Linked DNA regions of Homo sapiens: regions 2, 3, 4 and 5 are each linked to region 1. Evidence: fine-mapped expression QTL. A gene starts in region 1. Each other region holds a variant in brackets. All regions are shown on one strand. Distances are from middle to middle. Region 1 holds the start of FBXL4 (F-box and leucine rich repeat protein 4). Region 2 overlaps FBXL4 (F-box and leucine rich repeat protein 4). Region 3 overlaps FBXL4 (F-box and leucine rich repeat protein 4). Region 4 overlaps PNISR (PNN interacting serine and arginine rich protein). Region 5 has its middle 38 kb from the start of FBXL4.

What was found. PIP is the estimated chance that this variant, and not a neighbour inherited with it, causes the effect.
Region 2: its variant is fine-mapped to the expression of FBXL4 in whole blood (INTERVAL, PIP above 0.99). The same link has a PIP of 0.9 or more in lung.
Region 3: its variant is fine-mapped to the expression of FBXL4 in whole blood (INTERVAL, PIP above 0.99).
Region 4: its variant is fine-mapped to the expression of FBXL4 in prostate (GTEx, PIP 0.96).
Region 5: its variant is fine-mapped to the expression of FBXL4 in whole blood (TOPMed, PIP above 0.99).

What each region holds. Positions count from the first base shown.
Region 1 is chr6:98,945,004-98,950,110 of GRCh38, reverse strand. It overlaps FBXL4 (F-box and leucine rich repeat protein 4), which reads left to right and starts at 2,165. Exons shown (of 10, transcript NM_001278716.2): 1 at 2,165-2,305. RefSeq lists silencers at 1,744-2,038, 2,336-2,645 and enhancers at 1,771-2,282, 3,086-3,275.
Region 2 is chr6:98,923,839-98,928,945 of GRCh38, reverse strand. It overlaps FBXL4 (F-box and leucine rich repeat protein 4), which reads left to right. Exons shown (of 10, transcript NM_001278716.2): 3 at 1,124-1,241; 4 at 1,886-2,469. The coding sequence starts at 1,958. Among named protein-coding and RNA genes, the nearest start is that of FBXL4, 22 kb to the left of the region's middle. The variant C/T (reference allele first, on the strand shown) is at 2,422.
Region 3 is chr6:98,907,621-98,912,727 of GRCh38, reverse strand. The region is part of intron 5 of FBXL4 (F-box and leucine rich repeat protein 4); the gene reads left to right. Among named protein-coding and RNA genes, the nearest start is that of FBXL4, 38 kb to the left of the region's middle. The variant A/G (reference allele first, on the strand shown) is at 2,774.
Region 4 is chr6:99,407,892-99,412,998 of GRCh38, reverse strand. It overlaps PNISR (PNN interacting serine and arginine rich protein), which reads left to right. Exons shown (of 12, transcript NM_032870.4): 4 at 260-448; 5 at 2,035-2,258; 6 at 3,655-3,826; 7 at 4,728-4,918. Among named protein-coding and RNA genes, the nearest start is that of PNISR-AS1, 14 kb to the left of the region's middle. The variant T/C (reference allele first, on the strand shown) is at 2,853.
Region 5 is chr6:98,983,250-98,988,356 of GRCh38, reverse strand. No RefSeq gene overlaps it. Among named protein-coding and RNA genes, the nearest start is that of FBXL4, 38 kb to the right of the region's middle. The variant A/G (reference allele first, on the strand shown) is at 3,149.

The DNA of each region.
Region 1 (5,107 bases):
TATTTTATATAAGGAGCTCAAACAACTCAATAGGAAAGCAAAAACAAAAACAAAAACAAAAACAAATAATCCAATTAAAAAATGGGCAGAAGATCTGAACAGGCATTTCTCAAAAGAAGACATACAAATGGCCAACTGGTATATGAAAAAATGCTCCTTATCACTAATCATCAGATAAATGCAAATCAAAACAATGAGATATCTCACCCCAGTGAGAATGGCTTTTATCAAAAAAAAAAAAAAAAAAAAAAAGCCAGGAACAAAAGATACTGGTGAGAATGTGGAGAAAGGGGAACCCGTGTGCACTGTTGGCAGGAATGAATATTACTAGAGCCACTGTGAAAAACTGTTTGAAGATTCTTCAAAAAACTAAAAATAGAACTACTATATGATTCAGCAATTCTACTATTGGGTATAGATCCAACAGAAAGGAAATACATATATCAAAGAGATATCTGCACTTCTATGTTTATTGCAGCACTATTTACAATAGCCAAGATTTAGAATTGACCTAAGTGTCCGCGCAACAGATGAATGGATAAAGAAAATGGGGTACATATACACAATAGAATATTATTCAGCCATAAAACCCTCCACAAAATCCTTTTATTTGCAACAAACATGGATAGAACTGGAGGTCATTATGATGAGTGAAATAAGCCAAGCACAGAAAGGCAAATAATGCATGTTCTCACTCATATGTGGGAGTTCAGAAAGTGGATCTCAGAGACTGAGAAGTATTGGGGGGGTGGGCCATGGGGGAGCAAGGGGAGGTAAACATACACTTAGAAGAAACATACACTTAGAAGAAATAAGACCCGGTGTTCCATAGATCAGTAGGGTGACTACAGCTAACATTTATCAATAGTACATGTCAAAATAGCCAGAAGAGAACAATTTGAATGTTCCTAGCACAAAGAAAAGATAAATATTTAAGGGGATGAGTAACCCAGTTATGCTGATTTGATTACAGAAATGAATCAAATTATCACATATACCCTGAAAATATGTACAGCTATTATGCATCAAAAAGTTGAAGAAAATAAAAATTTTAATTTTTTTGTATACAATGTATATTGCATATCATATATTGATTCTGTTCATATATAAGTAAATATCCTTACTGGTTTGCCTCATTGGAGCATTCAGACAGCAAATAATGTGTAGTTCAACATTTTATTAAATATTTTCCATCTTAGTGGATATTTTGTAACAAGATAAATATGATGCAAACTAAAAAAAGTGCCAAGGGCGGGCGCGGTGGCTCACGGCTGTAATCCCAGCACTTTAGGAGGCTGAGGCAGGTGGATCACAAGGTCAGGAGATCAAGACCATCCTAGCCAATATGGTGAAACCCCGTCTCTACTAAAAATACAAAATATTAGCTTGGCGCCCTTGTAGTCCCAGCTACTCGGGAGGCTGAGGCAGGAGAATCGCTTGAACCTGGGAGGTGGAGGTTGCAGTGAGCCGAGATCGCGCCACTGCACTCCAGCCTGGCGACAGAGCGAGACTCCGTCTCAAAAAATACATAAATAAATAAATAAAGTGCCATACTGAATCTACCAAAAATAAATCAAAATGAGTAAGAGAGGCTGCCAGACCATCTTCTTCATCAGAGGTAATGGTCAGAGGCTTCTGAACGTTGGTATGGAAATGAGCCTGCAGGCAGGATTTGTATGCAGGGAAGAGGAGGTTTGTAAACTAGGTGAATTATACCTTCAGAGTGCATATAATGTATATTATACTTTTCCTCTACGTATGCGTACCAGCCGTATTACCTATGTATCATCTGATCCACCAAGTCTGGACTGAAGAAGTCCTTGTAGGACCACACTACACATGGCGAGCCGGTACTCGGAAGGGATTATTCCGAAGAGGATTTGTAGACACTACCCGCTGTGTATGACCTAGGCCCTTTACACGGGCACCACTGGAGCTAGGAAGCCAGCAGAAAGCTCCTCCCCCTGGCCTGGGAGCGGGCTGTCCGTAGGACCCAGAGCACCTCCCATGGGAGAAACGCCCGGCTTTGCTTCTGGCCCCGCCCCGCCTCCCTCCAGGCCCCGCCCCGCCTCCCCGGCCCCGCCCCAACCCCGCGGCCCCGCCCCTCCTCCCCGGCTCCGCCCCGCCTCCCCGGGCCCGCCGCTCCTCGCGGCCTCCGCGTCTTCCTTCCGGGTCGCGCTAGGCCGGGCTTGCGGCGGTTGTGCCGCATCTAGAGAGTCGGGGAGCCGCCCCCGCACCCAGGCCTTCTCGCGCTGCCTGGTCGCTGGTGAAGCCCGCGGCGCGCGCCTCTCCCGGACCCTGCAGGGTACGGCCCTTCCTTTACTTCTCCCTCCCGTGGGTCTCTGTCTTCTTCCTTTGGCGCCGGGGCGGGGCCGGGGCCGAGCCAGCGCGCAGCTCCGCGCTTTGGGGAGTCTGGACGCCTGGCAGAGGCCCCCGCTGCCCGCCCCTCCCCGCCCGCGGCCCCGCGCCCCCGCGCCTCCGCTTCACGCTTGCGGGGCTTGCTGGGGCCCTTGAGAACTGCTGACGTGCCTCGGGCTCTTTCTACGCTACAGTCTGCCTGCAGGCTGTGAGGCGTCGTTCGGACGTGTGCGCGGCTCAGGGTTGTTTACACCGCGGGGGACTGCGGGTCGCCCCACACCCGCGCTCAGTGCTGCGCCGGCAGCCACGCGTCGGCCACATGCCCGCCTGTGCTTGTGATTCCTGTGCCTGCTGCCTTGATTTCCCTCTGACATCCGATGGTTTTTGCCTAACCAGGCCTGTTTTCTTTCTTCAGGACTGCTACAGGGTGCCCAGCTACAACCTTGTTTCTGTGTTTAGGTTTAGGGGTGCCCCTAGAGTGTGATGATGACCATCTACTTGGCCTCCTTGTCGACATATTTATAACGGGTGGTTTTGGATTTCCTTGATTTCCCAGTAATCATTGCCACAAACCTTCGAGATGCATTCACAGATTGAAATACAGTATACAAATAACTATTATAGAAGGTGAAGATGGTATAAGCCTGTGGTCAGGTAGTTGCGTTGGCAGGATGCCCGTCTGGCTTTGTGCTCCGGAGGGCACATTACCACCAGGTGCAGGGATCTCTGCTTGCTTTGGTCTGTTCACAGACACAAGCTGCCTTTTCTGGTTCTTGCGTGCACTCCTTGGTTTCTTAAGTTCAGCTATAGGTATATATTTTTTTCTTTCAGGCTCACTTCCTGCCTCCATTATCCTGTACCGCATATTGTATCTGTTGGTTGAGTAGAGAGAGATTCATCCAGAGTCATCAGCGCTCCAATAGTCCTTTATCAGATTAAGGACTTGAGGGAAATGTGCATTATGCTTTAGTAGGCACTCTAAAAGTTCCTTGAATTGGATTCTTCTTTCCATACTTATGTTCTGAGTACTAACTTTGTTTTAAACTTCTGCGCCAAAAGTTGGCTTTTCTGAACTCTGCATTTTCAAACTCTTCCCTTCTGTTATTTGAAAATCAGATAAGTCAACTCATTGTAAGATGGATAATTTCTTTACTCACGCCGTGATGAAATAATGCGATTATAGTACTCTGTACAATGGTACATATGGTACTTGCACATATGGTCAGTTAACAAAAACTGCCCCTTCTTTCTTTACTGTGTTAGTCTCATCCTCTTAATGTTGCTGCGGTTAACATTCTCGATCTTAACTTCGCGGATCTAACACAGTGTCCTTTAAAAAAGGCCTTTATCTACATGAATTGTATATAAATATCCACCTCCGTTTTCTTCTAGTATTGTTAATGATCTTATTTATATTTAATGTGAGATAAGAAGGCTCTAACTTTATAATTTTGTTAGTGACTCCATCATCATTTGTTGGAATTCTATTTTTCCCTGCTGATCAGTCCTATAAATACCATAGGCCCTAAATTCCCGTGTATTCTTGGGACTTTCTGAACGGTCTAGTATTCTTTGGCTCCCTGTGGTGATCCTGGCTTCTGTGATGCTCTTATTGCTCTAGGTTTATAATGTGTTTTAATATCTAGGGATTTGAACGATGCCTGGCATATTGTAGACATCACTAAATATTTTTGAAATGAACACATTTAGTGGGGGCAAGTTGATTCCCTTTCTTTACCTCTTGCCTCCCTCCCCCCTTTAAAATTTTCCTGCCAGTTATTGAGATTCATTTATTTTAGCTTGCTTTTTCCATGGTCAGTTGAATCATTAACTGTTAGTAAATAAATCCCTTCTGTTGCTCATTCAGAACTTGCGACTAGAGTTGCTCCTTACAGTTACATAGAGAAGCAGCCTGATTAAAAATCTGCATGCCTTTTGACTTTGCACCGTGTCATAGTAACTGTAGTGTGTCTCTCCCCATCACCTGTGATTTAGGATGTTCTGTACCTGGTTTCTAAGAGAAAAATGGTTATCTAAGAGATAAATGGCTGTAGAAGTGTTCCCTGGGATATGAGGAAGATATCCTCATATCCATTTGTATTTTACCATCACAACTGGATATCTAAAATATAATAAATTTTACACTGGACACTTAAAACTTTATTAGCCCATGAAATAAATGTATGCATTCTTTAAAAAAGATCAAGCAATACAGAAATCCTTAAAGGAGGAAGTGAAAGTGCTGTGTGCCCACCTACCCAGTAACCTTGTTCCATAAAGATGATCACTGCTTGCAGATTTTAAAAATAAATATATTTAAGTCTACTTTTGTTTCATAAATGGCAGTGTACCATCTATAATTTTCTATAGCTTCCACTTAATAATAATTGATAAACATCCTTCTGTGTCAGTGCATATAATAGTATCTTGTCTTTTTTGTAAGTCTTTTGGTATTTCATTGTAGGAATAACCCAAAAGTTATTTAGCCAGTCCCCTGTTGGCATTATTCCAAATTTATTACAAACAGAACTGCAAGGATCATTTTTGTGTTTATTCTGTATACTGTCATGTTTGCATGTTAGTTCATTTCCTAAGATATGGAATTGCTAGGTCAGAGGCTACACATAAGTGTTAAATTATGAGAGATTCTGCCAAAGTGCTCCTCAAAAGTTGTTGGTAAGAGTAAATTTATACAATTTGTTAAAATATTGCTTTTGCCATATCACATTGCCAAGAATTGTCAAGGATC
Region 2 (5,107 bases), 21 kb after region 1:
GTAGGTATCAGAAAGTAAGGCTACTGATGTGGAAAAAAGTGGTTGGAAAAGAAATGATAGAGGAAGCGAGACTTAACGTAAAATACGAAGAGTGGTTAGAACTTGATTGGGTTTGCTGGGTTAGACAAGAAGAGATTGGTCCAGCTTGAAGAGAGCCTTAAAATACCAAACCAAATAATTTAGATTATATCTTGCAGATAAGAAAAAGGCATTGGAGGTTTTTCAGTGGAAGGGACATTTAGTGCAAATAATGTTTTATAATCTTAGTGCTGAAGTTTTGGAAGACTAGTGCATTGCTCTATTAAAGAAAAGTTGGGGCAGGGCGTGGTGGCTTACACCTGTAATCCCAGCACTTTGGGAGGCCGAGGCAGGCAGATCACCTGAGGTCAGGAGTTCGAGATCAGCCTTGCTAACATGGTGAAACCCTGTTTCTACTAAAACTACAAAAAATTAGCTGGGCATGATGGTGTATGCCTGTAGTCCCAGCTACTCAGGAGGATGAGGCATGAGAATCGCTTGAAACCAGGAGGCAGAGGTTACAGTGAGCCGAGATTGCGCCAGGGCACTCCAGCCTGGGCGGCAAGAGAGACACCCTGTCTCGAAAAAAAAAAAAGAAAAGTTGGTACATCTCCCTTCTTAGAAGTTAAACTCAAGACTTTACAGGTACAAAAATAAGTTTGTTTTATAGTTCCTTGTTGTCAACAAAAGTTTACCTACTCAATGAGGATGGGCCCCAGCCTATGTTGTAAATGAGTGGAGCTGGCTGGGAACGAGAGTGGCCACTGAGAGAGCTCATGCCTCTTGGGATCTTGTTGATTGTTAAAGGTTACAAACTAGATCAAATTTTTAAAAAACACTGTTTGGCCTCAGTGAAATATGTATACAAACATAGTTTGAAACAAAAGCTGTGAGTTTGCAACCTCTTTATAGATAGCGTTCATTATTAAATCTTTATTATATTCTATCATAACATTTAAAAAATACATTATTTAAAATTGTGTACAAAATAGAAAAATGTGGCCTGTTTGATTTGAAGGGTTGAATAAGTGGCTATTTATAATTTTGGATATTTTGACTTTGTGACTTGGACATAAAAATATTTTCCAAAACTCTTTTCTTACAGGTAAAAGAATGTCACATGTCAGCATTTGTACCTGAAGTCAGCATGCAAAGTTCAGGGTACCTGGATGAATGCCAACTTTTGCATTTCCCATGTGTATCCTGTGACCATTCTATCTGGGGTGAGTGATTTCTAAGAGTAGCTGGCAACAAACCAGATGCCAGCCAGCCATGGACTGCCCTAACAAATAATGCTAGGAGTTATAAATTAAACACTGATCTGTGATCTGTGATGTGTAAGGCAGTTAATGTAGTTCATCTGGATTAACTGTCAGCACCAAAGAACTATATTCCCATAATGTGAAATCTGAATTCTGTATGTTTGAAAGAGAGTAATAATTAACAGTAGGGAATTTTTGTTAACATGTAAAATTACAGCAATGTCTAAGATTATTTTGAATTTACAGCAGTATTTTAGTGGTTCACCATATAATTTAAATAATTTTAATTTTCAGATTCAAAGACTTAGTATTTCTTGAGTGATGGTTATAATTTTGTATAAAATACGGCTTTTTGGATTGTATATCTTCCAATTGCCTTATAATATAGTTTTGCTTCCCATATTGTATGCATAACAATATTTAGGTTTCTTAAAAATACATTAGAAAATTTATTTATACCAGACTTCACATTTGTATTTTAAAACTTGTTTTTTTAGTTTCATTCTGAGAAATTACATTGAGGGTAGAGCCTGTTCATTACCTTATCCATGCATTTTTCTGCTTATTTAAATTATTTTACTTCACCAAGCCATTCATTTTTTTAGAACATCCTTCAAAGAGTTCATGCATCTTACTGAGGACACCTGACCTTTTGAAGCTTCATAATTCACATCTAGATGTCACCGGTCTTTCCCATGTTAACAGTTCTGACCATGTTTTATTATATATGCCTTCGGCGCCGAGCCAGGACAGCTACAAGAGGAGAAATGATGAACACCCATAGAGCTATAGAATCAAACAGCCAGACTTCCCCTCTCAATGCAGAGGTAGTCCAGTATGCCAAAGAAGTAGTGGATTTCAGTTCCCATTATGGAAGTGAGAATAGTATGTCCTATACTATGTGGAATTTGGCTGGTGTACCAAATGTATTCCCAAGTTCTGGTGACTTTACTCAGACAGCTGTGTTTCGAACTTATGGGACATGGTGGGATCAGTGTCCTAGTGCTTCCTTGCCATTCAAGAGGACGCCACCTAATTTTCAGAGCCAGGACTATGTGGAACTTACTTTTGAACAACAGGTGTATCCTACAGCTGTACATGTTCTAGAAACCTATCATCCCGGAGCAGTCATTAGAATTCT[C/T]GCTTGTTCTGCAAATCCTTATTCCCCAAATCCACCAGCTGAAGTAAGGTAAGACTAATTTTTTAATGACCTAAGTTATATGGTAGAAAGGTTTTGGTTGTTAATATTGGAGATCTTTTTTATTGCAAGCATTCTTTTAAGTAACTTAATTGAATTTGATTTTGAAAATTTTCCTTAGTTTTCTGATGGGGAAGAGAGATCACTCATATAAAGATTTAATTCAGGCTTTATACCTGTAATACCTCATACTGTAATATTCATGGCTTATGATATTTGTATCTCATAAAATTTACCAAAACCAAAAAGCACAATTTGAACTCATAGGGACATGGGCCATTCTGGGACGTTAGTACGAAATATGACTTTGAAAATATTTTCAAACAGGCATCATGTTACTACTTTTAAATCTTTTCAACAACTCACAATAGGCCTGTGAGTGACACTTCAGAGGAGGTCCTTAGGGGATTTGGTTTAACGTTAGTTGAATGTTTTTGCAACACCCATATTCATTTAAAAATCAATGTTGCTTTAAGTAATTCATGCATTCTCCCTACAAGCCTGTTTTGCATAACAGCTCCTTGGCTGTCGTTTTTGTCATTCAACCTCCTAATTTTACAAAATATTAATATAATGCAGTCTCACATGTACCCTGTTCTCCATGTGCCTAGGACCCATTCCTCCCTCGAAGAAACCACTTTTATCAGCTCATTTTGTATCTTTCCAGAATTTCTTTGTGCAGACACAAGCAAATACAAATATAATTTTATATTTTTATACACAAAAGTAAGCATATTTATCACACTGTTCTGTACCTTGTTTCACACAGTAGTATATGTTGGATCTTTTCTTGTAAGTACAAAGAGAGCTTCCTCATTCTTTCCTGCATTTGCAAGTAATGCATAGTGTGTATGAACCCCAACTTATTAACTAGTCCCCCATTGATGGGCACTTAGTTGTTTCTAGTCTTTTGCTCTTATAAACATTAATGCAGGGAATGACCTTATCATAAGTCACTTTGCATGTGTGCAAGTATATCTGTGGGATAAATTTCCTAGAAGAAGGCTACTCAACCAAGGATAATTTGATAATTTTGTAATGTTTAACATTTTTTTTTTGCATTTTAACAATTTATTCTTAGTTACATTTAATTTTAATTTTTAACAGTTGTAATTTTCATATGTAATGCCAAATTTCTCTCCAAAGAGTCTGTACTATTTATATTCCCACTAGCAGGGCATGTACATGGGTGTTTTGCCAAAGCCTCGCCTACAGAGTATGTTTATAAATTTCAATATTTTTGCAATTTAATAGGTGAAAAATGTTATCTCATGTTAACTGTTAAAATTCTTTTATTATCTCTGAGGTTGAAATCTTTTCATATGTTTAAAAGCCATTTATATTTCTTTTTCCTTTAACTATCTGATCATATTATTTGCTCATTTTTTCTATTACTCATGGATCTTAGCAGTTTCTAGGACTTCATATCACTTTATTAAATCACTCGTTCATTAAATATTTTAGTGCCTACCTAATGTGCTAGGTGTTGTTCTAGGTATTAGAGATGTGTCAGCGAGCAGTGAACAAAATAAATAAAAATTCCCGCTCTCATTCTAGCCTGAGAGCAGATCAGGGCACCTGTTCAACTGTAGGGATGGCCAGCTGCCAGTGCAGGAGGAGGCGGGCAGAGGTCAGCTGCTACCTCCGTAACATGCAGCTCCTCTGATATCTCTGTCCCCTCATCTCTAAGGGAATACTTCCAGGGCCTGCCAGAAAACATACAGAGTACAGCTCAACTTGGAGATTGCTGGTATAATCTTTACTTTTTTTTCCAGAACTACCTAATAATTCATTGCAAATAATGTTATTAGTCGTTTTTTAAACTCAGAAAGCCAGCATACCTTAATTAAAATCAGATTTTTGTTTTCTCCCTAAGAGGAAAAAATGGAGTAGGATCTTTTGTTTTGTTTTGAGACAGGGTCTCACTCTGTCGCCCAGGCTGGAGTGTAGTGGCACGATCTTGGCTCACTGCAACCTCTGCCTCTCGGGTTAATGAGATTCTCCTGCCTCAGCCACCTGAGCGGCTGGGATTACAGGTGCGTGCCACCATGCCTGGCTAATTTTTGTATTTTTAATAGAGATGGGGTTTCACCAGGTTGGGCAGGCTGGTCTCGAACTCTTGACCTCAGGTGATCCGCCTGCCTCGGCCTCCCAAAGTGCTGGAATTACAGATGGGAGCCACTGTGCATGGCAGGATCTTTTCTTATATGAGAATTGTTTTATTAGGACTCTGACATTCTTCTTACAAAGTTACCTACTTTTTTCCAAAAATCTGAAAAGATTTAGGGAGGAGATCAATGGAACATGTAATGTGTTTTCTCCAGTCTAAAACTTAACAGCTGCATAACTAATTTTAAGTACAAATCATGCTCTTGGGTTACTGAGAGTTACTGGTATATGGTTGTGATTAAAGTTAAAACTTTATTTATACCTGTATCTCTAATTTTCTTTACTGATTTTCAGCTTTAGTCTACTGAAAATACCATTACATTTTAAGAGAAAAAAAGGTGACCAATATATTATTAAGATATAAGAAAAAGCCTTTTTAAATTTTACTGATTATGAAATCAATAGATGTTTCATTGTTTAAAAATAATCTAGAAAATACCAAAAAAAAAGGAAAATATAT
Region 3 (5,107 bases), 37 kb after region 1:
TGGCGTGATTTTGCAGCAGCTGGTACCGGTTGTGCCTTTCCATGTTTAGTGCTTCCTTCAGGAGCTCTTTTAGGGCAGGCCTGGTGGTGACAAAATCTCTCAGCATTTGCTTGTCCGTGAAGTATTTTATTTCTCCTTCACTTATGAAGCTTAGTTTGGCTGGATATAAAATTTTGGGTTGAAAATTATTTTCTTTAAGAATGTTGAATATTGGCCCCCACTCTCTTCTGGCTTGTAGAGTTTCTGCCGAGAGGTCAGCAGTTAGTCTGATGGGCTTCCCTTGGTGGGTAACCCGACCTTTCTCTCTGGCTGCCCTTAACATTTTTTCCTTCATTTCAACTTTGGTGAATCTGACAATTATGTGTCTTGGAGTTGCTCTTCTTGAGGAATATATTTGTGGCGTTCTCTGTATCTCCTGAATCTGAATGTTGGCCTGCCTTGCTAGATTGGGGAAGTTCTCCTGGATAATATCCTGCAGAGTGTTTTCCAACTTGGTTCCATTCTCCCTGTCACTTTCAGGTACGCCAATCAGACATAGATTTGGTCTTTTCACATAGTCCCATATTTCTTGGAGGCTTTGTCCGTTTCTTTTTATTCTTTTTTCTCTAAACATCCCTTCTCGCTTCATTTCATTCATTTCATCTTCCATCACTGATAACCTTTCTTCCAGTTGATTGCATGGGCTCCTGAGGCTTGTGCATTCTTCACGTAGTTCTTGAGCCTTGGCTTTCAGCTCCATCAGCTCCTTTAAGTACTTCTCTGTATTGGTTATTCTAGTTATACATTTGTCTAAATTTTTTTCAAAGTTTTTAACTTCTTTGCCTTTGGTTTGAATTTCCTCCTGTAGCTCGGAGTAGTTTGATCGTCTGAAACCTTCTTCTCTCAAGTCGTCAAAGTCATTCTCCGTCCAGCTTTGTTCCATTGCCGGTGAGGAACTGCGTTCCTTTGGAGGAGAGGCGCTCTGCTTTTTAGAGTTTCCAGTTTTTCTGCTCTGTTTTTCCCCCATCTTTGTGGTTTTATCTACTTTTGGTCTTTGATGATGGTGATGTACAGATGGGTTTTTGGTGGATGGCCTTTCTGTTTGTTAGTTTTCCTTCTAACAGACAGGACCCTCAGCTGCAGGTCTGTTGGAGTTTGCTAGAGGTCCACTCCGGACCCTGTTTGCCTGGGTGTCAGCAGCAGTGTCTGCAGAACCGCAGATTTTCGTGATCCGCGAATGCTGCTGTCTGATCATTTCTCTGGAAGTTTTGTCTCAGAGGAGTACCCGGCCGTGTGAGGTGTCAGTCTGCCCCTACTGGAGGGTGCCTCCCAGTTAGGCTGCTTGGGGGTCAGGGGTCAGGGACCCACTTGAGGAGGCAGTCTGCCCGTTCTCAGATCTCCAGCTGCGTGCTGGGAGAACCACTGCTCTCCTCAAAGGTGTCAGACAGGGACATTTAAGTCTGCAGAGGTTACTGCTGTCTTTTTGTTTGTCTGTGCCCTGCCCCCAGAGGTGGAGCCTACAGAGGCAGGTAGGCCTCCTTGAGTTGTGGTGGGCTCCACCCAGTTTGAGCTTCCCGGCTGCTTTGTTTACCTAAGTGAGCCTGGGCAATGGCAGGCGCCCCTCCCCCATCCAGGCTGCCACCTTGCAGTTTGATCTCAGACTGCTGTCCTAGCAATCAGCGAGACTCCGTGGGCGTAGGACCCTCCGAGCCAGGTGCGGGATATAATCTCCTGGTGCGCCGTTTCCTAAGGCCTTCGGAAAAGCGCAGTATTTGGGTGGGAGTGGCCCGATTTTCTAGGTGCCATCTGTCACCCCTTTCCTTGACCAGGAAAGGGAACTCCCTGATCCCTTGTGCTTCCCAAGTGAGGCAATGCCTCGCCCTGCTTCGGCTGGCGCACGGTGCGCTGCACCCACTGTCCTGCGCCCACTATCTGGCACTCCCTGGTGAGATGAACCCGGTACCTCAGATGGAAATGCAGAAATCACCCGTCTAATGCGTTGCTCACGCTGGGACCTATAGACTCGAGCTGTTCCTATTCGGCCATCTTGGCTCCTCCCCCCACAATACTTTTTTTTTTTCTTTTTTTTTTCGAGATGGAGTCTCGCTCTGTTGCCCAGGCTGGAGTGCAGTGGTGCCATCTCGGCTCACTGCAAGCTCCGCCTCCTGGGTTCATGCCATTCTCCTGCCTCAGCCTCCCGAGTAGCTGGGACTACAGGTGCCTGCCACCATGCCTGGCTAACTTTTTTTTTGTATTTTTAGTAGAGACAGGGTTTCACTGTGTTAGCCAGTATTGTCTCGATCTCCTGACCTCGTGATCCACTCACCTTGGCCTCCCAGAGTGCTGGGATTATGGGCGTGAGCCACCGTGCCCGGCCTGGAATTATTAATACTTTTTTGTTTGTCTAGTCTGAAGTCCTGTTTTCAGTGTGTCCCTACTGGGGTGTTTCTGAGGTATTTTAGCATCCCAGGCTCCCAGATATCAAATGCTAGTAGCATTCTAGGGCTGTGTGACATGAAAACCTCTCCCCACCAGTTTCGAAATATTCCTAGGGGTGAGAGTAGGGCCAAGCATTTCTGTCTCCCACTGAAAACTACTGTGTGGTTAAAAATGTATATCAGTTTTCTTTTTAAGGAAACTTTATAGACTCAAATTTTAACCAACTTAGATATCCCTTTTCCAAATTGATGTGTATTTCAGATTTCATGGAAATAACACAAATAGCTTAACTTTCATGAAACAGTAAGATAGCCTTTTGAATGTCTTAGAGTAATAGTAACTATAATGCCTCTCC[A/G]ACATATTACAGTTAAAATGCCATGGCACATCCTGTGAAGTAGCTAAAGTTGCCACATAAAGGTGAATTTAAGTGTCCAAGTTAATTTGGTCTTTAAGCCATGGGACCAGGATCCCACCCAGACCTCATGTGATGGAAAGGGAGCTTCACAGATTGGACAAAACTGGCCTTTACTGGGAGGAGGGAGGAAAGATGAAGGAAAAGCTGGGTTTGGGGAGAGAGAGGAGCATGAGATACTGACAGTGTTGCTCCTCAGGGCTCTGCGGTGGGTCTGTTGTTGCAGCAGTGGGAGCAATTCATCTGGAGGAGAGTGAATCGCTGCTTTGATTCTTACCCACTTGCAAAAACTGTAAAATAGAAATATAATTTCAGCAAATACATTTTAAACAGTTTATTGAATTTTATCCAGACCTGATAAAATGCTTGACCCATAGAATTTGAATGAAGGCCAGAAGACACTTGAGGCAAAGGGAAGAGAAGGTACAAAGATGAGAAGTGAAACTGTGTGACTTGTTTGGAAACTCCAGTATTTCAGTGTGACCAAAGCATAGGATTTGATAGGGGAGGCTGCAGGAGATGGAATTGGATGGAGGCTCAGGGCTGCCTCAGTGCACAGCTCCATGCACATAGATGACAGTGATTGGGACTCCCTGTCTTTGGCAGTGTGGAGTCTATTCTGCTGCGTCATAGAGGTCTGTTTGGGTTTCACCAAGAGATTTGCATTTTATCCCTTCAGCCAGTGATCTTCAGGGTGGTCCAGTATACAGCCAAATTAGTCAAGGGGAGTCACAGATACTTTAGACTTTGCAGATAATTTACTTTTGCTAAAAAATTAGAACATGCCCTAGAGTAGGAAAATACAATAAAGTAAAAATATCGGTTTTCCTTAATCAGTGTATTCAATGAAGTCCCAATTAAAATGCAAACAGAATTTTTTAAAATTGAAGTTTGCCTAAAAATATGAAAATACTCAGGAACATTCTGGAAAAGAAGTGTGATAGAGGAGTATTAGTCCTGATTCTCATTTGCAGTCAAACAATCCATGACATTCCAACACATATGCTTTAAAAAACTTAGTTATTTTACTTGGAGGACTATTGATATGGGAGAAATAGCATATAGATAAATGGAACAGAATAGAGTCCAGGAACAGGTCAAGAGGATAGTGGGAAATGTATCGACAACTCCCCTGGGAAAGTGTTATGTTTCTGTTGTTAAAAAAAAAAAGAAACACAAATAAAAACAGTTTTATATCTTTTCTTCCTTTTTTGTCTTTCAGAATAAAAACGTTTTGATACCAATGTTGTCTAGGATATAAGCAAAAGGGTACTTTCATACAATTTTTATGGATATATAAATTGATGGGAACATTGTGAATGGCAATTCTCCACTTGCATCAAAACTTCTAAATGCATGTAATTTACTATAAGGATATATTTTCAAAGTTTGCCAAGATGAACATACATGCATAATACATACACACAATGATATTGCAGTATTATTTGCAATAGGAAAAAAAGCAGGACATACATCAATGAGGAACTAGTTGAATTATGTCACTTCTATGAAACGGAAGGAGGTGGGTCTGTATGTGCAGATATAGAAAGATCTATAAGATATATCATTAAATGAGAAAAGCAAGTTGCTGAATGGTGTATATAGTATCATTCTTTTAGTGCAAATTCAAGAACAGAATTTCATACACATTTATTTGGAAGAGATCAGAAAAACAATGATTATCTTTGGGGAGAGGGATGGTTAGAACTGAGTGTAGAGAGGAAGAAACTTCTTATTTTAGACCTTTCTTTAATGTTTGGGTTTACTTTTTACTTGAAATTTTTGATTTTTGTTTGTGTAATATTTTACACATCAACAGGTGTATCTGGATGATGAGATTTGTTAAAGAAAAATTATTCAATCGTTCTAGGTATAGGGACCACTACAATGGGATTTTGCAGTGTCTGAGAGAGATTGGGTTCAACAGCATGGGCAAGTGGGAATTAATAGCCAAGGAGCAGATTAGAAAGTCAGTAAATTACTAAGAAAATTACTAAGAAACATCAGGAGTAAGGGAGATTCTGGCTACACCCTCTTTAAACTTATTTTAAAGATCATGTTGTTGTTACTCTGCGTTTTGTGATATTTTGGCTTAAAACAGTGAAAATCTGACCTGAAATTAATACTGAGCCTAGATAACAAAATAAATTGAAGAAGAGCATTTAGGTTAATTGCAAAACAAAAAGTTTAGCTAGATAAATACATTAAATTAAAAAAAACCCTCTCTCATCTAAATAAGATTTTTAACATTTAGCAAATATTTAATATCTTTTCCTT
Region 4 (5,107 bases), 460 kb before region 1:
GGAGTTCTTTCCTGAAAGTGTAAGTAGTTTATATTATTTTTTAGCCTGAATATGGGTTATTTGCTAAGTACCCTTTCAGACACAGTATGCTTTAATATTTAAGATCTCATTCAAAAAAAATTTTTCTAATTTCCCTCATACCCTCTCTGTCTGAAATATTTAAGATCTAAGGAATAGTTGAGCTGCTTATTTTACATAGAGGCACTATTCTTTTAACTCCTACATTCTGAATGCTGAAGTCAGTGTTAATTTACGTTAGGCCAGATTGATTGGGCTGCATTGGCCCAAGCTTGGATTGCCCAAAGAGAAGCTTCAGGACAGCAAAGCATGGTAGAACAACCACCAGGAATGATGCCAAATGGACAAGATATGTCTACAATGGAATCTGGTCCAAACAATCATGGGAATTTCCAAGGGGATTCAAACTTCAACAGAATGTGGCAACCAGGTTTGTTGTTTATGTTTTCACAATTTTAAGACTTTTAAAAAACAGAATGAAGATTATTATTAAATTTTTTAATTTGCTTAGTTGTATGACTTCTGGAAATTAATGCTTCTTAAAGAATAGGCAGTTTTCAATTTGATTTGACTTTGACATTTTGTGGTTAAAATTATTCTGTACTCATTCTGCTAGCTTTGTGGCACTCAGTTTGATTCTTTTCTTGGTTCTTCATTCCTAGGCTGACAGGGGCTGGGAACACTCTGGAAACCTCACTTGGCATCTAGGGAAGAGAGCATTCTTTGTCTCTCTATTGCAACCTCTGGCCTTTTCAGAAGCAGCACTGGCAGAGTAAAACATGTCTAGCCTCTAATTAAAGAAAAATTGTGTCACTGTGTGACAAATTAGTCTGTCAAATATACTCTGCCCCTACCATCCGCCTACCTTTTTCTTCCCTTTTTTTTTTTCAGATAGTGAAGATCTTTCATAAGTTTTTGTGTGTTTTACTTTTTTGTTTGTTTTATTTCACAGTATGATGTAGATTTCTTGATGCTAATTCAGTCTTCCATGGCTTGTGTTATTCCTTTTTAATAGTCACTTGAAACTATGGAGGAATCAGCCTCTCATTTGGGTATGCTGATGGTGAAGTCATAACCTCCTTTCCCTATTAATACTTTTTGTTTCTCCTTATAAGAATGGAGACCTCAGTCGAGACCAGCCTGGGCAACATAGCAAGGCCCTGTCTCTACAAAAAAAAAAAAAAAAAAAACCTTAAAACTTAGTCAGGCATAGAGGCGCATGCCTGTAGTCCCAGCTACTTGGGAGGCTGAGGTGGGAGGATTGCTTGAGCCTAGGGGATTGAGACTGCAATGAGCTGTGATCACGCCACTGCACTCCAGCCTGGGTGACAGAATGAGTCCCTCATTTAAAACAAACAAACAAAAAAAACGAGAATTCAGATTACTTTTAAAAACATAAATATTCTAGTCTTTGATACTGTGAGGTGGTTCATTTCTAGCTTTCTTGAAAGTGAAATTTCCCCACATTTGAAAATGTTTTAGTTCCTAAGTTTAAGTTCTTAAATGACTCCCGCGGGCATCCCTACCCCTTAGTTTTACTCTACTTTGTGACCCTGGGCAAGTGATTTACCTCTGTGTGCCTCGATTTTCCCTCCCGAAATTGGCAAAAATAATACCTAATTTCTCCCTACCTCACAGGGATGTTGTGAGGATAAATGTGTTCGTGTAAGAAAGAAATTATATAAAACCTCAAGGTATTATTTTTGTGGTGTTGTTACTAAACAAATATAAAAATTCAACAAAAATAGTGCTTTGGATTTTGTTACATTTGTTAAAAATAACTTTGGGCATTTGGTTAGGATATGAATTAGAGTGGAGTTAGCTCATTTTGAATTATATATGACAGTTTAGTTCATTGCTTATTTTTAAGATAAACAAAAGGAATTTGACCAAGAAGTCATAAGTTGTTTTTTAAATCTGTATGTTTACTGAAAAATCTTTCTTGAGATCTTAAAATTCTGTGTTGATTTTGTTATAACCGCCTGTTGAATGTTTTTATGCCTAAATCTTAAATAGAATGGGGAATGCATCAGCAACCCCCACACCCCCCTCCAGATCAGCCATGGATGCCACCAACACCAGGCCCAATGGACATTGTTCCTCCTTCTGAAGACAGCAACAGTCAGGACAGTGGGGAATTTGCCCCTGACAACAGGCATATATTTAACCAGAACAATCACAACTTTGGTGGACCACCCGATAATTTTGCAGTGGGGCCAGTGAACCAGTTTGACTATCAGGTGAAAGATATTTTGTTGCTTTAATATTGTAGATGTGCACGTAATCCATTCTTTGGAAGTGTCTCATCAAGAATACCTAAGATACGTGTTTCACTTTTCAGACTTGTATAAATAAGCACATTCTGTCTCAGTTATCAATTTTTGAGTATTAAAATAATTAGAATTTGTTTTCTGATTTTTTTATTTCATTAGGAAAATGGTATAAAAGATCATTACGGAAAACTTTTGAAAAAATTAAAAATGTATAAGTGCAATAGCTATATGATGTTTTATTTTCTAATTTATATTTCAAAATGGTATATTTAAATGTTAAAGACTAGAGAATGCACAGTAATTGAATATAGCTCATGGTTAAGACATGAATAAAAAATATAGATCATTTTCCTAAGTGTAATTCCTTGTGCTATGTAGAATTATGACTGTTTTTCTAGTGTCATTTTTTTTCCATTCTGACATGACATGTTAATGGAATTGTATATAATTTCCTCTGTAGCATCCAATTCATTCCTAGGGACATAGAACTCTGTGGGGAATAGTGTTGTATGTTGGGCTTTATTTACTTCATTCCCTCTGCCAGGGTCTACCCTTAAATTA[T/C]AGTGCTAGGTGTCATTTTGAAATAACTGATTGCAATTATTAACTTATAAACTGCTATCATAATTTAAAATTTTGAAAGAATTATTTCATGAATTCTAGGGTAGATTTGATAATGGACATCTAGTATTCACCTTGAGATGGTAATCCTCTCATTAATAAATATTCAGATACTTGTATACTTGGTATACAGATACAACAGTTTTTATGTTGTTTGAAGAAATATAATGGCAGGGAGCATCTGCTTACCCTACTTTTGCATGGTAGATCCCATGTAAACAAGACAAAGAGCTGTATTGGCAGCTGGCCTAGAAAAGCCTCTGAAAATAGCAAAATTGCAGAAAATATTTAATGATTCATTAACTTCTATCTTTGCTTATAAATGAATATATCTGCAAGATTATAGAAACAGCTTAAGTTGTTTAGTTCACTTTTTGTTCACTGTAAGTAGGATGTTGAAATTGACAAAAATGTCTAGTTAAAGAGAAATTAGTATCTATTTGATGTCTTAGTGTTGGTAGGATTAGCTTGTAAATGGATTCAGAATGAAAAATTTCATATACTTCTTGAAAGTAGCTTATCAGCTGGCTTTTAGAAGCCTCTTTGCATTTACATAGCCGGAAAATCTTAAGACAAGTAAGCCTAGGTTCTTGGGACCATAGAAGTATCGGTGGATATTAGAGCCATGGAATTCTTGGATGTGCTGCACACATGGATTTCTACTGTCCCAGTTCATAACACACGTGTGTCCCAGAGAGTATATTGTATTAATTTGAAGAAAAAATAAACTGCAATACTCTTTCAGCATGGGGCTGCTTTTGGTCCACCGCAAGGTGGATTTCATCCTCCTTATTGGCAACCAGGACCTCCAGGACCTCCAGCACCTCCCCAGAATCGAAGAGAAAGGCCATCATCATTCAGGGATCGTCAGCGTTCACCTATTGCACTTCCTGTGAAGCAGGAGCCTCCACAAATTGGTAGCTATTTAACTTAGTTTAGTGGACCACAATTGGCATGACTTTTTTATCATATAAAAAGGATGTCTTGTTTTCTTAAAATTGTTTGAGTATCTCTGATGTGTTAGGAATTGACACTTTATTTTTTATGGTCATAAAGCTTAAAATTACAAAAATGATACTGGTCTGAAATTAAAAGGTTTAAATAATTTTATTTAAACCTTTACATTAAATTCCAGATTTTGTGATGAAGTGAAAATTTATGCTAGCCATAGCATGTTGGTATTTTCTTCAGTGTAGGCATTTCAGTACATTATACAGATATATGAGCCCTTCTCCTTTTAAATCTAATTGTTCAATCTCTGTCCACTCTTAGTTCATCTGATGCACTGCTGTCAGATTAATTTTCCTCTGGTTATTTCACTTCCCTTAAGTATTTTGGCAGAAAATTTCAATTTTTTAAATAACATTATAGAGCCAGCCTATTTCAAGTGACAAATACATATTTATGCCACTTTATATCTGGAAAGTTCTAAATTGTTCAGTATTTAATGGACAGGAGCATTTGTTAATAAATCTTTACTTTTTACATTTTAGGAAGATTCTAACTTTACTCCTTTTTTAACTTACTAGCAAATCACTTAATTTTTTCGAGTCTCAGTTTCCTCACCTGTGGAAAAAAGTGGAGTAATAGTAGTGATCTCTGAGGGCTTTTGTAAGGATTAAATTAGATGATGGTTTAACATGCTTTCATTGTGTCCTGGCAGATTGTAAGCACTAGAGCAGTGGTCCCTGCTGTTACTAAAAGTGATGGCATTGAAGAAAGGCATGATATTTAATGGGATATTTTTTAAATTTACTCACAAGTTTGTAGAAATATTTTACTTAACTGACTTGCGTATATTTTTCCCACGTGAAACAGACGCAGTAAAACGCAGGACTCTTCCCGCTTGGATTCGCGAAGGTCTTGAAAAAATGGAACGTGAAAAGCAGAAGAAATTGGAGAAAGAAAGAATGGAACAACAACGTTCACAATTGTCCAAAAAAGAAAAAAAGGCCACAGAAGATGCTGAAGGAGGGGATGGCCCTCGTTTACCTCAGAGAAGTAAATTTGTAAGTAGAATCCCCAACATGAAACTCCATGTGAAAATCTTGGTTGTGTGAAAACTTTACTGAAATAGATATTTTAGCCTATAGGAAAGTATTAGAGTGATGTTCCTAAGATTACGTTCATTAAGTATATTGAGGATTCTGATTTTATATATGTGTTACTGAAGATACAGTAAGGAGAAAATGGGACAA
Region 5 (5,107 bases), 38 kb before region 1:
TCAGCCTGGCATCAGCCTAGCTTTGATAGAGGGACTTGGCTTCTTCCCCTTTTCCTCTCACAGGTTTGCACAAGGAGGAGGACAATGTAAAGGGAACAGAAGCTCTTATTTACCTGGGTGTAGCCATGGGCCTGTCAGCTGTCTCTGCTTTCCTGGCCAGGAATGACCCTCTGGGTGGCAGGTATCCATATCCTGTCTCTCTCATGAGATGAAGGTGTTCCAGGTGTTCGACAATGAGGGTTCTTGCTCTTTAGGAGACTTTGCAGGGATGTTGCATGTCCCACTGCACCGTGCCCTGACTTTTGAGGCTCACTTGGCTCATCTCTTCCAATGCCCCTACTTTCTTCTCTAGGAATACACCCCACTATGTCTTGATTCCAGTGTCCTCTCACTGTTGAGTTAAGTTCAGCTAATTATGTCCTTTGTGTCCATTTGATCCATGGAGAACCCAGCCATCTTTGCCAGACCAAATGGTGGGAGTAAGGCCACTTGTATAGTCTTCTCCTCACCTTGCCATCTCGCTCTGTTCTTTCTACTCAAAAAGGCACTGCGAGTAATGTAAGTACATGTTCAACCAGAGAGTGAGAGGCCAGTCTCTTCTTTTGACAGACAATCTCTACAAGCAATCCTCTTAAAGCCTTCTTCCTAATTTGGAAACTGTTAGGAAAGAGGAAATAGAAAGAAAACTCACAGTGTTCCCCACTGAGTTGATAACTTATGACTCCAGTAATTCCTTTGAATTCTCCCTCCCTGTTGTTTGGCCAATTCTTAATAAGCTCTGAGGAGGTATTTGTTTTTAATTGTTTTCTGATCTCTTTATAATATGAGGTAATTGATTCCTCTTTAGTTTCAGTCTTGGGTCCTAGATGCCAATTCCAGGGGAATAAAAAATATTTCTAATTAATATCTTATTATATCTTTCACATTTTTCAGTTTACTGTTCACAATTTATGCTACCACCTGACATCTTGAGGGGAGGAGGGGAGGCATTTCCTCAAACCCCAGCTTCTGAACACAGGCCTCCCTTCTGGCTCTATAAGTCTTCCATCCCATATATTCGTATATTCTTTCTGCTGATATTTTTGTGGCTTACTAGTGCCAGGTGCTTTTTGGGGGATGGGGGCAATAAAGAAAACAGAAAAATTGGCTACCCCCATGGAGATTACACTCTAGTTTAGAGCAAACATTCTCCAAACATTCTAGTTTAGAGCAAACATTCTCCAGGAGTTTAGCCGTAAGTCCTTTCAGGTTCTAAGGTATAATAATCTACCTACATGAATGTCCTGGGCTGGCCCAGATTCTTGTCCTTCTTCTGTCTGTCTGTCTGTCTCTCTCATTGACTAATTCTTAATCTGTCTTAGCTATACTCCTTTGGCTACCTACAAGACCTCTTTCTTTCTAAAACTGTCCTCTGCCTCTTGATCCACTCCACTGAGTTTAATTTTGATCTCTTGTACCCTGAAACGAGAACCACTGAACTCCTGGGTGATCCACACCGCTTCCTCATCTTTTAGAATAGATGTCTCCTGCCCCTTTGCTCCCACAGCTTTTGGCCATGCCTCCATTAGAGCATTGACCATACTTGAGGTCAGGGACTAGGTCATTCCTTTTTGTAACTCTCTCCCCCTCACAGACGCACACATACCACCAACTCAACCTCCATCACCATCACCCCCACCCATGCTACAGCTGTCAACACTACCATCTTTGTGCGTTGGACAGAGTAAGAATTCAACAGAAACTGTTTGAGTTGAACTGTTTATCTATTAGCAATTAACCTTTCACAATGCCAATGTAGTCTTTTAATAACTCTGCCAGGTCATGCAATATAAAGCCTCTTCCACTTCCAAGCTGGCAATGAGGACAATTCACTGCAGATGATTCTATGGGAAGTGACTGACTCTCACTGCTCAGCTCCCCAGTAGCTGTGACTATTGTAAGAATAACCAGAGGCCTCCAAATTCCATGTCCTCTTATGATCCATGAACTTGAGAAAGATAGATACATAAAGGAGAGATCTGTTTCAAAAAAGCTTTGCAGTGTTAAGCCAGCCTTTGAAACCTTATTTATTGTGTTTCATAATACGTCAATTTAGGACTCATGTTTGGTCAACTCTGCTAAAAAATGTTAGAATTGCAATCTGAGCTTCCTTTGTTAGTTTGAATTTTCCATAAAAGAATTTCTTCTATAATGAAAATAACCAAAAGGGCTTTCATTCATGAAAATATTTGAGGCATCTGAAAGCCTAGTACATGTAGGAGTACTTTTGTACTGGTCTTTTTGAAGGCAATTTCTTTTAACTCTTTTTTAACTGTATCAAAAATGTCATGACAGCTCTCTCGGTACTTGCTTCTTTACAAATGACCAAAAAATAGATGCTAATTTTATAAAAATATATTTCACTGGGAATGGACAAAAGTGAAGGGTAGATCAAGGTTAGTCACAGTCAAAAGAAAATAAAGATCAAAAAGCCTCCTGGGGTAATATGCTGAAAAAAAATGAATTTTCCAATGCCAATTTATGGCAAATTTTCTATGTCAATTACTGATTAAACAAAAGAATAAATAGAGAGCTTTACATGCCACTTGTTCTCCACCTGACTTGGAGAAATTGTGAACTGTACACACTTTCCCTAATTTTCCCCCTCGTTACTTGAAACTGAGCCAAAGCCTTGGCCATTGAGTTAGAGAATTGGAAGAGCAATCCCTGGAACCCTTAGCCACTCATTGTTCATTAGTAATGTGGTCTTTCAGGAGATCTTGGAGGAAAAAAGTCAAGTTTAACATTACAGAGGAGAATGTAAAGGAGGATTACATGAGGGATAGACATGGAGGGGATGATAGTCATTAATTTAAAGTGGTTTAGAACAGAGCTGGCTGTTATTTGTTTCTACTTGAGAAAACAGTAGATGATTACCCTGTTAATCCATTCAGTCATGTTACAAATATTTATTTTTCATCTATTATGTGCCGTGATGAAGAGAAATAGATAACTAAAGCTAGAGAAAAAAGCACTCAGGTAATAAAATTAAACTCACTTATTTTTAAATTTTTAAATTTTTAAATTCTGGCTTCCATGAAACCTTAAACATTTTTATATTTCTGGGGTTTTCTCAGAATTATGAAAGGCAAAGCAGAGAGGTTATGTC[A/G]GTGTGTTGTTGAAAATCACAGGATTGGTGATTACATTTGGTGTATCTCATAAAACAAAGTAAGTATCTAACATATTAGAAAATTAAAATTTTAATAATAAAATTGTTTATAATTGTAATAATATGTTAAGAGGGAGATTCTTTCCTTTCTATCCCTACAGAATAAATTCCAAACAAACATATATGAATAATTCAATAGCTTAGTAATTAAAAATACAAATTAAAATAGCGATGAGATACCTTTTTGCTTCAAATTGATAAATATCAATTTACAGTGATAGCGACTGTTGTTGGTGAGAGTTCTTGAAAATAGGCAACCTCAAATAGCTATTGGTAGAGGTGTGAAGTCATACAGTCTTTCTGGAGGACATTTTAATAAATATAAAAAGCTCTAAAAGTATTCATTCTTTTTAATCCCGCACTTCTACTTTGAGGAATGAAAGCTATACAAAGAGATAAATATCCAAGGATGTTTATCACAGCATTACTTAAATAGCTCAAAATTATAATCCTCTAAATGTCCAACAGTAGAGAATTGCTAAAAAAAATTAGATTGTATCCATATTTTGCTATATTTTAAAGTAATTCAAATCACACTGTAGAATTGTCAATGCATGGAGAAATGTTCACAATGTATTAAGCAAAAAAACCCTAAATGATGTAGAAGTGTATTAATATGTGTGAATTAGTCTGCTTGGGCTGGGCTGGCGTAACAAATACCATCAACTGGGTGGCTTAAACAACAGAAATTTATTTCTGGTAGTTCTGGAGGCTGGAAGTTCAAGATCAAAGTGTCAGTTGATCTGGTTCCTGGTGAGGGCTGTCTGCCTGGCTCACAGATGGCTGCCTTCTTGCTGTGACCTCACATGGCTTGGGAAGGGATGTGGCAGGGAGTTCTCTGGTATCTCTTCTTATAAAAACATTAGTCCTATCAGGCTAGGGCTTTGCCCTTTTGACCTCATTTAATATTAACTACCTTCCACAGGCCCTATCTCCAAATACACTGGGGCTTAGGGCTTCAATATTTGAATCTGGAGAGTACACAAGCATTCAGTTCATAATAACACATATATTGTCAAATATACAATGTGTGCTATATATACGTGGGAAAGAAGCCAGAAGGATATACATGAGGTATATTAAAATGTTAACAATGTTTGTGTTTGGGTAGTAGGATTAAGGGTAGTTTATGTTTTTTCTTTCTTTGTACATTTCTGTCATTTCAAAATGTTCTATTGAAAATGTATCGGAAAAACACTACAAACAGCATATGTGTTTTTAATTTCGACACCATAGAACCAGCCCTCACTGAGCAGACCATGTGCAGAGCAGGCTGCCCATTTCAGGGCTGGCCCTGGAATCACTCTGGGCAATGTATGCACAGCACAGTAGGGAACAGAGAAACTTGCTGAACTTCCAAAGGAACCCATAAGAGATAATACAAAGACAAAGCTTTCATGGGATTTCAAGAAACAGCTACTTTTCCAGGAAAGCCTTATTATAAACGAGGTTTCCAAAGAATATGAAAGCCAAATAGGAATAACTAACGCTTGAGTGGCACTTTTAACTTTTCCAAAGCACTCTCCCATTTATTAATTCATTTGATCTTCATAACAACTATGCAGGCAGGGCGTCTATTAGTATTCCTATTTTAACAATGAAGACATAAAGGTAGAGAGCGATTAAGAGGCAAACTCCAATCACAATTAGCAAAGTGGGATCCAGATGTCCCAGCTCTCAGTCCAGCACTCCTGCCCCTGCCTGGGCACCCTCACACATAACACAGCCTCTGGGAAAATCTAGGATTTTTTCAGCTCTTATTAAAAGAAAAAATTTCCTTAGCTTTCTTGTGAAAAGAATGAAGCCAAATAGGGCTGTAAGAAATAATGTAATTCAAAAGGCAAAATACAGCCTGCTATCACCCAGACGGAAGGCTTTGCAGCTAGTGTGTTATGTGGT